Linked DNA regions of Homo sapiens: region 2 is linked to region 1. The links come from fine-mapping of genetic effects on gene expression. Tissue or cell type: whole blood. Region 1 holds a variant in brackets; the other region holds the start of a gene. All regions are shown on one strand. Distances are from middle to middle.

Region 1 (8,321 bases):
AGACAGTATATTTACAAAAGATATATACTTTTTCTTTTTGCTGCAGAAAATGGCAAGATAAAGCTTCATTTTTTGATATTATACTATCAAAAAATTGTCAATATGGGACTCTAAATTCAGCAGAACTGCTTGAAATAGAGTTCAAATATCTAAGAAGTTTTTAAAATAGCCATTGTATAAAAGCTAGTCTCACATGTTGATGGAAATAGAAGGATGAAGTAACACTATGTTATTCAACTCAGAATATCCTAGGAGAACAAAGAGAAGCAGAGAAACTATAGCCTTGGAGCACCAGCAGCTTGTCCTGGCTTTTTTGTGAATGGCCGTGAAGAAAGGTGAATAAGGAACTGTAAAACTACTAGAAGAAAACAGGAAAAGCTCTACCCCATTGGTCTGGGAAAGTATTCCGTGGATATCATTCACCTCACAAACACTGGCAACAAAAGCAAAAATAGACTAACGGGATTGCATCAAACTAAAACGCTTCTGCACAGCAAAGGAAACAACAGGTGAAGAGACAACCTACAGATTGGGAGAAAATATTTGCAAATCATGCATCAGATAAGGCGCTAATACCCAAAATACATAAGAAACTCAAACTACTCAGTAACAGGAAAACGAATAATTCTTTTTTTGTTTGTTTCATTTTTGAGACAAGCTCTCACTCTGTTGCCCAGGATGGAGTGCAGTGGCATGATCTTGGCTCACTGCAACATCCACCTCCCGGGCTCAAGCGATCCTCCCACCTCAGCCTCCTGAGTAGCTGGGACTACTTAATCTTAAGCAGGGACAGGTGCATGCCACCATACTCAGCTAATTTTTTGTTTTTGTTTTTGATAAAGATAGGACTTCATCAGTTTGCCCAGGCTGGTCTCAAACTCCTGGGCTCAAGCAATCCAGCCACCTCGGCCTCCCAAAGTGCAGGGATAACAGGCATGAGCCACCACACCTGGCCCACTCTATTTTAAAATTGGCAAAAGACCTGAATAGCCATTTCTTGAGAGGCTGTATAAATGGCCAACAGATAGATGAAAAAATGCCCAACATCGCCAGTCATTAGGGACATGCAAATCAAGGCCACAATAAGATATCACTTCACCCCAGTTAGAATGGCTATTATCAAAAGATAACAAATGCTGCCAAAGATTTGAAGAGAGGGGAATTCCTATACATCATTGGTGGGAATGGAAATGAGCACAGCCATTGTGGAAAACAATATGGCAGTTCCTCACAAAATTGAAAACAGAACTACCATATGATCCACCAATCCCACTTCCGGGTTTCTATTCAAAGGAATTGAGATCAGTATGTCAAGGAGATGTCTGCATCCCATGTTCATTGCCACATCATTCACAATAGCCAAGATCTGGAAACAACCTAAGTGCCTGTCAATGAATAAATTGATTTTTTAAATGTGGTGTCTATATATACAACAGAATATATTCAGCCTTGAAAAAGAAGAAAATTCTGTCACTTGCAACAACATGGATGAATCTAGAGGACACTATGCTCAGTGATATAAGCCAGGCTCAGAAAGACAAATACTACACATGATCTCACATATATATGGAATCTTTTTTTTTTTTCTTTGAGATGGAGTCTCACTCTGTCACCCAGGCTGGAGTGCAGTGGCGTGATCTCGGCTCATTGCAACCTCCAACTCCCGGGTTCAAGCAGTTCTTCTGTCTCAGCCTCCCAGGTAGCTGAGACTACAGGCACCTGCCACCACACCCAGCTAATTTTTGTATTTTTAGTAGAGATGGGGTTTCACCATATTGGTCAGGCTGGTCTCGAACTCCTGACCTCAAGTGATCCACCCGCCTCGGCCTCCCAAAGTGCTGGGATTACAGGCATGACCCACCACGCCCAGTCATGTATGGAATCTTCAAAAGCTGAACTCATAGAGTAGATTTTAGAAGTCCTCATCACAAAAAAAAAGATAAGTATTGAGGTGATGGATATGTTCATTAGCCTGATTTGATCAATTCTACAATGCCTACATGTATGGAAACATCACATTGTACCCCATAAATATATATGATTATTATTCATCAATTAAAAGTTTACAAATTAGCCAGGCATGGTGGCTCACGCCTGTAATCCCAGCTCTTTGGGAGGCTAAGGTGGGAGGATCACTGAAGGTCAGGAGTTCAAGACCAGCCTGGCCAACATAGTGAAACCCTGTCTCTACTAAAAATACAAAAATTAGCTGGGCACGGTGGTGCGCACCTGTAGTCTAAGCTACTCGGGAGGCTGAGGCAGGAGAATGGCTTGAACCTGGGAGGCAGAGGTTGCAGTGAGCCGAGATCACGCCACTGCACTCCAACCTGGGAGACAGAGTGAGACTCTACCTAAAAAAAAAAAAAAAAAAAAGTTTAAAAATTAAAGTGGATTAATTCTGAAAAAATAAAAGGAAAGCAGATAGGCATCTGGAAGAGGTACCAGAACTTCCCCATTCCAAGGTTACTTATCTCAGAGTTGTGAATGGATGTCTCGGGGTGATGCTGTAGAACAAAGTGATCAAGGACAAGCAATGATTCCCAAACCCTCACCTGGGATCTAGAGTGCAAGACCTACCCTGTGGGCAATCAGGAGAGATCAGTGAGCAGCTGTCCTCACCCTTGGGTGCCCACCTCCTTTCTTCAACCTTACAAATCTGACCTGTGGATATAAGGTCTAAAACCCCCATCGACATAAGTCTGATTTTCTTTCTGTTCTGTCTGCAACACAGAAAAGAAGAGAACCTTTTAGGGCATTTAGAAAAATGATAAATTCCAACAAGGTTTGAGATTAATTGCATTTTTCATTTTTTATTTAACTCTCTTTGCTTTCTATGGCTATAGGAAAGTGTGAGTAGTCTATAAGGGCTGTCCCTTAGCCGAGCATCATAATCTTTGCTAATTCAGGACCATGACATGCATGGAGGAACAAATGGATAGTTACATAGATAAATTGACTATTGGTGGGTAGATGAACTGGTAGATAAATAATGCTGTAAAGAGAGAGGAACAGAGACAGGGAGAGTAAATTTTAAACAGTCAATCAGCAAGGCCAGGGCTGGAACAAACACCATCTCCCTAGAATTGCCCAGAAGAAGAACGTGGCTTCTGGAAGGCTTCTAGGAATGTACATTGAAGAATATTCAAACTGCCCAAAGAAATAGCAACAACAACAACAGCAACAACAAAAATCAGTTATCCAACTACAAAAGGGTGAACAGAATAATTATGAACCTCAGGAATTAGAAGAGGAAAGAAAATGGAAAGACAGACTTATGAAAAATCTTAACACTTCTATCTACTGCCACGTTCAAAGTAAAGTCCAAACCAATCAGCAAAACTCCTAAGAGGAGCCTGCGGCTGCGAGAAATCTTTCTGAGGTCACTGAGTCCCTACCCTGCCTGAGGGAGGCAGAGCTGTTCCTAAGTCGCCCTCCCCTGGAACAGAAGCTCGGATCCCAAGGGCTGATTGATTCCTGCGCCTTGGAGAAATACTCTTTAAAATTAAAGAATTACTCGGCAGGTTTTTTCCTCTCTTGCCTAGTCGTGCATTATTACCAAAAGGGAGAATAAGCTGCAACTGTCAGGTCCAGCGGCTCCACCCTCAGTCTAGGAAGGAGCTCACGTGTGCACTGTCATCAGACAGATTTGTCCCTAGAGCCGAGATGTTCTCC[G/A]CAGTGTCGGTTATAATGCCCAGAAAATTAAATCCAAGGCTGCTGCTGTTTCTGCAGACTGGCGCTGGTCAGTTACAGGCAGGGCAGGGAAGAAGCAGTGGATGGAGAAAGTAATCATCTGTTTTGAATTAGGGATGGCAGGGAGGCAGTATGGGAGCGGGAGGAACATGCACAGATCTTTGGGTTTTCATTTCTGCTTTGCCAGATGGCCACTGTGTGCCTGTAAGCAAAGGACCTCACCCCTCTGTCTCTCTGAACTTCCACTTCCCCATATACAAAAAGAGATAGTAGTGCCTATCCCCTGAAGTTATTTCAGGATTAAAGATTATGCATAAAAGGGCCCATCCCACAATCCGTGAAAGCTGTCATCACGGTCATCAGCCCCTGCCTGGCTCTCAGGCCTGCTCCGCTGCTCCAGCCCTGCCCACAGCTGAGGCTTCTGACTCCACATGCAGTTTCTTCCCCTCACTTCCCTCCAAAAGGCAGCTCCAGACAGAATGTGTCAGCTCTGCCTCAGTCTTCCTTGCTACTGTGCCAACTCTAATGAGGTGGCTCCAGCATTACAGGTGGCCTTTGACGTGGTGTCTGCCTCTAGTTTCTTGGCCTCATCAACTATGCAGTGGTCTTACTGAGCAACTGCTAACTCGGGTCCCTTCTGAAACAGACATCCTGCCTGGCTCCTGCCTTACTCTCAGTCTCCCTCCCAGAGACTGGACTTCTACTCTGAGCCCTAGTCTGATGACAAATGCTTTGCTATTCAAAGAGAGACCTCTGCGCTGACAGAACCCTAAGCATCTCCCACACCAGGATCCCTGTTGCTGGACTCTGCCCATGTCAACCCCCACCACTTGGTTCAGTCCCACCCTTGTTGCAGGCTGCCTGCCAGAGATCAGCAGGCACCTCCCTCCTTCCTGCCAAATCTTTCTCCCTCTGCAGAATGTGATTTGGTGGAATAGACACAAATTATAGAATCAGACTGCCCTGAACATCTATGTGTGACCTTGGGCAATTTCTTCACCTCTCAGAACCACATGTATAAAATGAGGATAACAACAGCCTCATTGGGCCATGGAGGAAATTCAGGGAAGGACGTGCATTGCAAGCCTGGCACTGTGCCTGGCATGGGGGCAGTGCTCCCTAAAGGCCCACTCCCCTTTGCCTCCTCCCATCGCCAATGGCCTGTAACTGGTCATGTCCACCTGAATCCAGAGGTAGAAAATGGTCATTAAAACAAATTGTCACTTGATTCTATAAGCCAGGTGGCACATGACAGCCATTAATTTTTCACATGAAAAATGGCTCTGCTAATTGAAAAACATCAAAAAGATTGAGGTTTACACAAATGTTCAGCTCTGTTTATTTTTTCTAATTTACTTTTCAGCAGTCAGTAAGAACTTAATGAGCTCTCATTTATGGCTTCCTCCCTATTTATAGATATTGGCGCCTGTGGTGTTCTAGATGTATATACTGAGAGCATTCAGCCTGGGCTACATGGCCAGTAGGGAAGAGTTACAATACCCAGGTAAATTCCAGACAGGAATTACTGCTCCTCAAAAACTTAGCTGATACACTGTTCATTAAGAAAACGCCCTGCTACTTTACATTGGCTGGATACTGTTTTCCTCTTCTTGGGAAAAATTTTTCTAGCTGGAAGTTTCATTTGATATGACATGAAAATAGTTAACATTTATGGAGCAATTGCTCGGTTTCAGACACCGTGTTGTGCATGGTATGTGGATTCTTTCATGCTTGTCATAACACTGAGGAAAATACCCTTATTAACCCTGTTTCCAGATGAGGGAATTAAGATGTAGGGGAAAATGTAAAATGTTGAAACCCAATTTTCTCTGGGTCCAGATTCCATATTTTTATCATGGCATCTACACAGCCATACCCTCTTTTCAACAAGCAGAGAGCCAACTGGTGAGTTCTGTCCATTTGAGGAGAGACAGATACGGGAGAAGAGCACTGCGCCAAGAGTCAGGAGACATGAATTCAAGTCCCACATCTTCCAAGAGTCCTCAGGACCTTGAGCATGTCCCTCACCATCTCTGCTTTGAAGTTTAGAGGTCTGGGATAGGGCTGGAGCCAGAACGCGGGCACCAACCCTTCTTCCCCTCTCGCTGACCAGCTAACAAAGACAACAAGGGGAATTAGAGTTTCAGATTTATTAATGGCCAGTTTTATACCCCCAAACCACCCAAAGTAGAGCCCTCTGACAAAGCTGGAATGGCAAACACAGATTAGACTCAGGCCAAAGTGGACGCCTCTGACTCCTGCCCCAGGTCTAGACCTTGGAACCCACCAGACCATGAGGATGCCCCACCTGGCCAGGCTTGGAGTGAGAACAAAGGTCTTTGAGTCCTGGGGCAAACAGCTCAGAAAGATAAAGTGGAGCCTCTTTCCCACTGCTGAGGCACCAGAAACCCTGCCCAGCAGCAAAACATGACTCAACCAGTCCTCTAATGAAGAGAAACAGGAGGGCAGAGAGAGGAACAGAGCTTACACGGCAGTCCTTCCCTGAGCGGGGAGATGTAAAAGCAGAAGTTCTCACCCCCATGGGCCAAGGTGGGGGTCGGCAGAGAGGAGGAGAAAGATCCCCCTAAAATTCTTGACCTGTAAACTAAAAGGCTGGACCCCTGAAGCAAGAGGCAACACTGATGAATGAGAGGAATGGCTGCCACTATGCAAAGTGAATGGATTCAAGAAGTTGGATTGTACCTGACTGCAGACTAGAGACACAGCAGTGGGAAGGTTGGCACCTCTGGTTTGGAGAAACTGAGGATGATCCCTTTGAGTTAAGGACACTGTCTTATTCATTCTATATCCCCCACACCCTGCACTGATGGAGGCTGGCTCAGGGTCAGGCTCAATCAGTGTCTGTTGAACTAATGAGAGAATGAATAGAAGGGCTGTGGTTTGGCATCTCCTGAGACAACGAGCCCACAGAGCTGCTCTGAGACATGATTCATAAGCCTTCTGGTGCTGCAGGGATGGTCACTGGTGTTGTACCTGTTCATTTTGACTCCCAGTCACATATTAACAACCAAGATGGCAGCAGTTCTCACAATAGCATTTGTGGGGAGATGACACAAATAGAAATAAATTACTTCTAGAGATCAGCATGTTACAGCACAATCACTTGTATAACTGCATACCTCAGGCCTTGGGAGTAGAATCGAAATTTAGCCTGGAACCCTGGGCTCCCAACTCGCATTTTGGTGCTCCTTTCCTCCACCACAGAGCGCAGCAGAGGCTGCCGTACAGGCAGAGCTACATACAGCACCGGACTCAGTGAAGACCCCATCTACACTCAGGCCAAGAACTCTTTTTTTTTTTTTTTTTTTTTTTTTTTGAGGCAGCATCTCACTCTATCACCCAGGCTGGAGTGCAGTGGTGCAATCTTGGCTCACCGTAGCCTCAAATCCCTGGGCTCAAGCAATCCTCCCACCTCAGCCTCCCAAGTAGCTGGGACTACAGGTGTGCACCAATATGCCTGGCTAATTTTTTTATTTTTAGTAGAGATGAGGTCTAGCTATGTTGCCCAGGCTGGTCTCAAACTCCTGGGCTCAAGCAATACTCCCACCTTGGCCTCCCAAAGTGCTGGGATTACAGGCTTGAGCCACCACACCCAGGCAAGAGCTCTTCTTACAAACTGGTTTTTTCAACACTCCTAACCTTGCCATCATCCCACAAGTAACAAATAATCAAAATCCTCTTCTTGGACTTCAAATACAAGCACCAGGAATACACAAAAATATATGCATGAGTTCTCTTGCAATCTTATGTTGACAACTGAACCAGTGAGTTCAGGCAGCTAGTAAGCAGCTGAACTGGGCTGCGGTCCCAGATATTCCCTGAGCCAAGGCCAAGGAAAAGCTTTTTCAAGAATGTGATGTTTAAGCTGAGCCCAGGAAAATGAATAAGCAGGAGTTAGCTTGGGGAAGGGGATGAGATGGAAGCTCCTACAGGGAGAGGGAGGAGCACTTTCAACATCCTTGAGGTGGGAGCGCTTATGATTTTTCCATCAGACCACGCTGCCTCACAAAACCTCATTTTATGAATGAAAAGAGGACATCCCCCAGAACAAAAATCTTGTATCATATCACGGGAAAGGAAGGAAGGGGCAGGGAAGGGGAGGAGGGGAGAGTGGAGGAGATCGAATTCTTCCCCTTTCCAATATGATAACATCCTTTTCAGCAGATCACTCACCTTGGGAGATGCTCCATTAAAAACAGAGTTCTAAGACCAAATAAATTTGGGAAATAACCACATAGCTATATCCTCCTCTTGACAAGTCATACAGCTCATTAACCATTTAAAGACCTTGAGAAGTCCTGCAGCAAAGAACATGAGTTTCTCCAACCCATTTGACTACTTCTTCAATCAATACCTATTTAACATTCCATAGGATATACGTCAAGGAAAGCCTTCCATAAATTAACTTCAACAGCCACGTGGAAAGTGCTAACTCCGACCTCAGCCCCAAGGACCAAAAGCTCTTTAATACCACAGTCTATTGCACCAAGTTTCCTATGCAGTCCCGTGAGCATCGCAAGTGCCCTGGTCAAGCCCCAGGCTTAAAGCACCCATCCCCAAGACAAGGGGCATGTGGAATGAAGCACACGCTCACTATTTGATCTCTGGGA
Region 2 (8,330 bases), 95 kb after region 1:
TTATCAAGAACCTTAAAAATAACTGTGCTCTTTGATTAAGTAATTCTACCTCAAAGAATCTTTCTTAAGGCAATAAATTAGAAAATAAAGAAAGGTTTATACATAAAGAGGTGATAAACATTAATGCTGAAATAATCTGCATTAAAGGGAAAAATAAGGCTGGGCACAGCAGTTCACGCCTGTAATCTCAGCACTTTGGGAGGCAGAGACGGGTGTATACTTGAGGTCAGGAGTTCAAGACCAGCCTGGCCAACGTAGCAAAACTCCGTCTAACTCTGTCTCTACTAAAAATACAAAAATTAGCCAGGTGTGGTGGCACACGCCTGTAGTCACAGCTACTCGGGAGGCTGAGGCAGGAGAATCGCTTGAACCCAGGAGGCAGAGGTTGCAGTGAACCAAGATCGCACCACTGCACTCCAGCCTAGGTGAAACAGCAAGACTCTGTTTCAAAAAAAATAATTAAAAAAAAAAAAAGGGAAAAAGAAAATCTACCCAACAATAGCCACGTAAATTATGGTTAATTCACATAATTGACTCCAACATAGCCATTTTAAAATGTCTATTTTTTTTAAGTAGGGAGAAATGTTTACAAAGTAACTTTATGTAGAAAAAGTCAAAATGTTAAATCAAGCATACAGTACATTCTCATCCATGACAGTTCCTATGGTGTGAGCTACCTTCTTTTTAGCCTTTACTCAGTTTCAGGCACTGTGCTAAAAGTTCTACAAGTACTATTTTGTTTAATCCCAACAAAATTCTGATGTAGTTACTATCATTGTGCCCATTTCACAAAGGAAAAAATGTAGGTTCCAAACTGCCCATGGTCAATTAGAAACTGGCCAAAAGAGGAGGCAAATCGAGATCTGACTTCAAACACTGTATTCTCTTAGCTACTGTATACAGCAAAGAGGAGACTGAGACAGAAGTGTGACAACATGCTAACAGCAGTTCTCCCTCGGTGGTGGGATCAGGAACCATGAAAGATCTTTTCTATACTTTCAAATATTTTTCAAATCTTCACATAATCACAAATTGGTAAAAAGAATGATTTTAAAATCTGCAAAATAACTTTTTTAAGTGTACAGAGGGATTCAGAAGAAAAGTTAGGCAACTTACATTTCCTCATCTTCATCTTCTTCATCCACCCAAACTGGCTTCTTTTGAGGTGGAAAATTACCTTTTGCTTCATTCTCCACTTCTGAGTCACCCGAGTCTTCATGTTCTTGAACCTACAGCAGACAAAACACCCTCAAGCACTGAGATTTTCCTATCCCATGACTGCAGACACATAGGCCTTACAGCCAAATGGCTCATAGAATGTTTTTTCTACCACTCTCTGATGAAATAATGGGATGGAATGCTACCATTGCAAATGCTGGAAGCAGAGGCAGAAAATGGAGAAATCAGAGAATGGCACCGACTGGACAGGTGAGGCAAGATGGAACAGTCAAGGAGAAAAAGTCAACACTCAACACGCAGGAAGGAAAACACCAAGTAAGACAAGAACAAAAGATGAGTCTGCAGATGAAAAAAGGAGGAGAAATGTCAGAACTACAGAAATTACAGGACCGGAGGCAAACTAGAGTCAAAGATATCTCCATTTTCCCAATCTGTTTTTGACCCCCTACCTCCTTAAGAAACTTTATACCAGCAGAGAGCGCAATGCCTCATGCCTGTAATCCCAACACTTTGGGAGGTCAAGGTGGGAGGACTGCTTGGGCCCAGGAGTTCGAGTCCAGCCTGGGCAACATAGGGAGATCTCGTCTCTACAGAAAATTTTTAAATTTAGCTGGGTGTGTGGTGTGCACCTGTGGCCCCAGCTAACTACTTGGGAGGCAGAGGCAGGAGGATCACTTGAGCCTAGGAGGATGAAGCTGACTTCTGAGTTTAAAGTGTTCGGAGAATTGTGCAGGTGTAATTTATCTGTGACCAACAAGAAGAGCAACCAGTTACTATTAGCAAAAGGGAGATGGAAGACTAATAGGTGCCGCTACACTCCAGTCTGGGTGACAAAGTTAGACCGTATCTCTAAATAAGTAAAAAATAAATATACCATTAAATCTAAATTCTAAAGTTATAAATTTATACCATAAAGTTTATACTATCAAATCTAAACCTAGGCCGGGTGCGGTGGCTCACACTTGTAGTCTCAGCACTTTGGGAGGCCGAGGCGGGCGGATCACGAGGTCAGGAGTTTGAGACCAGCCTGGCGAAGATGGTGAAACCCCGTTTCTACTAAAGATACAAAAAAAAATTAGCCAGGCGTGGTGGCGCACGCCTGTAATGCCAGCTACTCCAGAGGCTGAGGCAGGAGAATCGCTTGAACCCAGGAAGTGGAGGTTGCAGTGAGCCGAGATGGCGCCACTGCACTCCAGCCTGGGCGACAGGGCGAGTCTAAAAAAAAAAAAAAATCTAAACCTAGACCACAGAATATCCCTTGAAGTGAGTTTGAGCTTCCCAAAACCAATGATAGAAATGTCCAAGTGGTTTCTACTTGCTCTACTACTAGTCTAATAGCCTTCAAACCCAACAGCTCCCACCTCCGTACACTGTTCCTTTTCCAGACGACAAAACCGTCGCACAGTTCAGCATGTTTCCAGTAATAGTTCTGTACTTCCCAAAAAGATTGCTGCCACTTCTCCTACAAGCACCCGAAGGCGGCTCTGGTAAGCAGCTGACATTAACTAGGTCAGCATTTGTGTAATAAACATGGCCTGGGTAATTCTCGGTGAGCTTTCCTCTGCCCCCTTTATCTAAAATTTCACAGGCCTCTACACACGCCCATCTCCCTTTCCCGAATGTCCTTTTTTCTCTTCAGCACTTGTCACCAACAAACCTGAAGTTTACTCGTTTATCTCCTCTATCTTGTCTCTGCCACTAGCACACAAGCGCCAAAAGGCAGGGATTTTTGTCAGTTTTGTCCATTGCTGTGTCTCCTCCAGTGCCTAGAACAATGTCCGGGACTCTCTCAAGAAAAGCCTGGTATAGAATTTAAAGGGATAGCAAAATGTGTGCAAAAAGTATGATCAATCACGCAGGGTTTGCCATTGCCAGAAAGGGTATCTGGCAACTAACAGGTTCACCAATATTTGCTAAATGAACGGAATACACGATCATTCTCAAAACATGGTGGGTCTCATAGTCACATGGGGACATAGTTACAACGGAGATGCCCAGGCCCGTGCCCACGAATTGATTCCATCAACGAAATCGAATTCCTGAATCACAAGGAACTGAGGCAGGTGATCAAAAGACCACCCTCAGTTTGGGAAGAGGCTAGCGGAGTCGAGCAGCAGCGAAAGATGCTCACGACCACAGTTCGCAAAGCAGATACCCGAGCAGCGGCGCCTCCAGGGGCGGAGAAAGACGCGGTCCCCGCCCTCCAGGCACTTTCAGTCTGGAGCAGGGAGGCGAGGGACCCGCAGCTGCGACCCTCCGCGCCCGCGTTCTCGGGCTCCCTCCCACCTGAGCGCTCCCCGCCGCCGCAGGTCGCCCAGGCTCCGCCCCCCGGAGCTTCACCGCCCACCGCGCGCCCCGCCCGAGTGCGCCCAGCCCGCGCGCCGCGGCCTCCCTCACCCTCGGGCCTCGCAGACGCCGCAGCAACGCGTCCTCGTCGTTCTCGACGTCGCCGAAGACCAGCTCCTCCAAGCACCGCTCCACGGCCGGTTTGTCCTCCTCCAGCCTCAGGCGGTTCCGCTGCCGGAGCCGTCTCTCTTCCTCCGCCGCCGCGACTGCAATCGCAGCGGCCGCCGCGCTCGGCCGGGCCGGCGGTTTCCGCTGGGATGAAGGGGCAGGCTTTTGGGGAGGCCCGCCTGGCCCCGCTCCGGCTTTCCAGTCCGGCCTCATTCCGGGCTTCCGCTTCGGCTTCGCTCCGGTTCTCCGGTCCAGTTTCATTCGTCTCCTCCGCTCCGGCGGCATCGTTAGGTTTGAGGAGAAACGCAGGCGCTCACGTGGAACCTCGCTGCGCATGCGCCCAGGCCCCTCGCGGGCCGCCGCCGCCGAAGCCCCGGGGGCCGGAAGGAGCCTGCGCAGCCTCTTGCCACGTGACCAGCACTCCCTCCCTCTACGTAACTCCCGCTCCCCTACCCAGCCCCGCCCCGTGTGGGAGTTCCTCCGGGAGGGCCAATCTTCCGGGTGTAGGGGGAAGCGGCGTGACTGGAGTGGAAAATTTTTCCAACACAATTTCGCAGCTGCAACATATTGAAAGGAGCGCAAGAAACCCCGACTATACACTGGGACGGCTGAATGGAACTTCTGCTTTTCCTCTTGGCTGTAACCACTTGACTTGACACAAGCCCCAATACGCTTTCCACCCTTCGTCTTGGTACGGTCCTTGGAGTACGGAGCCTGCAGAGGGTCCCACGGTGGAAGCGAGAGAGGAGGGTATGTAGGGAAGTGGGCCAATCGGGGCGCGGGTCACGGCGCAGGCGCGCTGGGGAGGGAGGGCTATGCTAATGTTGTTGATATCCTGGGGCCACCCGAGTTAAAGGGGGGAAATCCGGGGGCTGCTGCACCCGCCACCGGTCTGGGCCCAGCCGGGGGCCCCCTGTAGTCGCCGCAGTCCCGGGGAGAGGCACCTGCCCCCAGCCCGGGGAGGGGGCGCCGCGGGCTCGGGGAGCACGGACAACCCCTACCCATGAGGCCCTGATGGAAAACACAAAGGATCTGGTGAGAGCCGAGCGCGGCAGCCGCTTTGTGTGCCAGGTGGGGGGGACGCCTGCAGCTCTCCGACCCCAGGAACCCCGCAGCTCCCTGACCCCGCTCCCTGGCCTGCTTCTCCATCCCACGCCCTCTCAACCTCCGGAGCCCCCCTCCCCCTTCCAGCCGTTAAACGATTCAGGGGTTCCCCTCCCCCCACCCCGTCAGCCTTGGACTCGTTGGGGTTCTCTCCATCTCCTCCACCCTTTGGAAGAAAAATTCGAGAAGAAAGTTTTTCTCTGCGTCCTGCCCCCGCCCCCTGCTCTGGCTAGGGGGGAAAGGCTGGATCCGAGACTTTTCCTTTTTTAGCCACCCAGGGTGGGAGAGTGGAGTAGTCCTCTCTTCTTGGCGGGGAGGGGGAGCACAGTTTCGTTGCTTTGCAGGGGAAGGTGTCTATCTGCCTTGGGGGCAGTGCCGCGAGGCGGTTTGCACGTGGAGGTGGAAATATTGAAAGGGGGCGGGGTGGGCACGTGCGGGAGAGGTGGGAGTGGTGTTTGGGAAGCAGCCTCCAAGGCTGCATATTTAAAAGGGTTTCAAGTCGGTGGACTTCTGTGACCATTGCGTTCTCCTTTGTGAAATAAGAATCCTAACATTTCAGAGTCGGAAGAGACATTAGAGGTCATCCAAAGCAGCCGTCCCCTCTGCAGCCTCTCTGACAAGTGGTAGGTAGTCTGAACCCTGCTTACACCCCTAAAAGCACTGAGAGCTCACTACTGCCCAGGAAAGCCCATATTTCAGTAGTTCTAATTGTTGTCTGCCTACCCTTATTAGACCCTTCAGTCTCATTCATGTCCTGGTTAAGTTGCTCCTTTTTTTACTTCTCAAATTTTCTCTCACATCCTCCTCACCCACCCACTGCTCATTGGCCTATATTTTGTGTGCCAAGAAAGAACAGCAGGGAAGTGGAGGAAGGGGGGTTGAGAGATAGTGAGGGCTAGCCGAAAACTTTGCTGGGTCAGTGTCAAGTGTGCTGGCTTACATGCCTGAAGATGTTTTTCTACAGGAAGCTAAAGAATTACAATATGGGAATTTCGTGCCTGTTTTCTCTTAGGAGTGCATCTTTTTGAAGTTAGAAATTTCAGCGTCATCTCCGTGGTTCTTGTATCACAAAACACATTTGTTTATTACCTAAATCACTTCTAAGGATGTCTAAAACTGAAGTGGTTAGAAGCATCACCTGGTAGAGGGATGATTAGATGATTACCGCCCACACCCGTATTTGACCTGTGTTCCTCGGAAGCTAGTCTTTCCTCCAAGGGCCTCTCTTCCAAATGCTTTTACTCCTTCTTTTTTTTTTTTAAGTAACTATCTTTTATGAGATTTGAAATTTACGAACCATTTTAATACTTGTTTAGAGTTTACAATATTTTTAATTCTCCTTATATTAGCATGCACCAGTACTTATCACTGGGTGGTTGAGATAGTTGAAACTATTGTCACTGGGTGTTTTTCTAACATTCTCCTTCATTTGGTGAGCTATGCTGCCTCTAAAAGTAGTTTTATTGGCCTAAGAATCTTGGATATACCTATTACTCTCTAATGTGGTGAAGTGGGTGTCAAGACATAACAGGTATAATGTAGAAATAATGCATGTGATTTAAAAGCCAGCAAATAAATTTCACCTTAAGCCCCAGTCTCCTATTTAAAAGGTTAGACTCAATTTTTCTCTCCTCCTCTTATAACTTAGAGACTGTTGCTTTGCTCTTGTGGACTTAGACTGTTATTTTATTTTTCATTTGTTTACCTCAACACCAGAGTGTTTAGAAAGAAAATAGCTGTACTTTTTTTTTTTTTTTGCACCACCTCCTTCTCTGAATAACAAGTAGCTTCTATCTATCTAAAACCCCATACTGATTGCTTGTGAGTACCTTGCAAATTATGGCAACATCTGTCTTGAATAAGTATTTATTCATAGTGCCTTACGTTGTTGCGTCATGCTTTTTAACCATCCAGTTTCTAACTTTATGTAATGTTTGACATAAAATATTTCCTCTAAATCTACTCATTAGAATTCAGCTTGTGAAAAAGAATCAGTAGAGGTGTAATAATAGTGTTTTTAACATTTTAATTAATAAGGAGTTCCAAGTTTTTTTCCTGCTTACTTTAAACATGAACTGTCATGACTTAAGTTGACTGACTTTGGAGACATCTGCATTCTAAACATACTAGACAGGAACAACTGGTTTTATTTTTAAGACGCTGCCATATTCTTTAAAGCTGGTTATATGTTGACCTTATTATCTAAACCTTTCTAGATGTTCTAGTGCTGCTTTTGGTCCCTCAATAATGTTGAAAATTAAAACAACATTTTAAATTGTTTTCAAATGTAACATAGTGATCAAAGGAAAATATAAGCTATAGTTTAAAAGTGAAAACAACATATTAGGATAAATACTAAACCACTGAATTACTAAAAGCCAAGAGTGCTCAGTAGTCTGAGTAACCACATTCTAAAATTAGACAAGTGACATTCTTTGGGTTGCTCTTTGTTTCTCAGCTTTTCATCTTTAAAATGTTTGCTAAATAAGATATAACCTTTCACACTTATGTATCATTAGTCTGAGGGTTTCAAAATTCAAGAAAGAATAAAAACATCAGGACAATAAAAGAGAAAGGACTTACAATAGTTAAAACAAGCTAAGATATTTCTCCTAACACCACAGTATTCTTAACTGTGCAAGATGACTTTTGATTTCAGGCAAAAATTGCACATAGATTTAATCATTATTTTTTAATAAACCTTGGCTTAAGGATTTTTTTACCTGCAAATTTAGGATTTCTCTTCTTGCTTTGCTGGAACCCACAATAAAAGGTGAAAAGGAAATAATTCCCATTTGAACAAACCCTGAATATGAGATAGGATGAAGTGATACAATAAGAGGGGTGCTGGCAGTGAGGTTGATGTCACAATTCTGCCATTGAGTAGCTCCATGGCCCTTGTTGGACAAGATCCTGTGCCTCCATTTTCTCATGGCAGTTGAAGGGTTAGTCTAGTATCAGCATAATCCAATAGAAGTTTCTGCAATGATGGAAATTTCCTATATCTTTGCTGTCCAGTTACGGTAGCCACTAGCCACATGTGGTTGTTGAGCACTTGAAATGTAACTAGTGGAACTAAAAATTGAAGAACTCAATTTTTAATTTTGCTGTTTTAGGCAATGTAAATTTAAGTAGCCAAATGTCTGGCATACTGGACATACACACATAGAACACTGTTTTCTAAGCATAACTAATCATTATAATCACTTCTTGGAGGCTCTTGTTAAAATACTAAACTTCTCTCCTATAACTTATTTAGTAGGTCTGCAGTGGGTCCTGGGAATGTGTTTTTAATGTATACCCCAGAAAGTTTATCAGGTTGGTTAGGGAAACACTCCATTAGGAGATTTCTGAGGTCCCTTCGAGTTCTCACTTTAGCACTGATAATTTAGAATTTAGTCTAGTAGAAGTGAGCTCTGGACAAAGTCAGCAAGCTACCTCTCTGAACTGCGATCTTAGGTGAGTTGTGTAACCTCTTTGAAAGCTTCACTTTCCTCATCTGAAATACAGGGTGAACATCAGCCCTGCCTCCTGTAGTTTCTGTAAACCTCCACTCAGATGTTATGCCCGCTGTTTAAAAAAAGTAAGCTGCT

Evidence for each region.
Region 2: UTP18 starts here. The variant in region 1 is fine-mapped to the expression of UTP18 in whole blood (INTERVAL, PIP above 0.99). The same link has a PIP of 0.9 or more in esophagus mucosa.

Annotation. Positions count from the first base shown.
Region 1 is chr17:51,351,288-51,359,608 of GRCh38, reverse strand. No RefSeq gene overlaps it. Among named protein-coding and RNA genes, the nearest start is that of LINC02072, 19 kb to the right of the region's middle. The variant G/A (reference allele first, on the strand shown) is at 3,673.
Region 2 is chr17:51,256,173-51,264,502 of GRCh38, reverse strand. UTP18 (UTP18 small subunit processome component) reads right to left here and starts at 3,957. Exons shown (of 14, transcript NM_016001.3): 1 at 3,577-3,957; 2 at 1,117-1,229. The coding sequence starts at 3,918. It overlaps MBTD1 (mbt domain containing 1), which reads left to right and starts at 4,454. Exons shown (of 17, transcript NM_017643.3): 1 at 4,454-4,668; 2 at 5,297-5,360. RefSeq lists an enhancer at 2,887-2,936 and silencers at 3,407-3,596, 3,947-4,056, 4,397-4,716.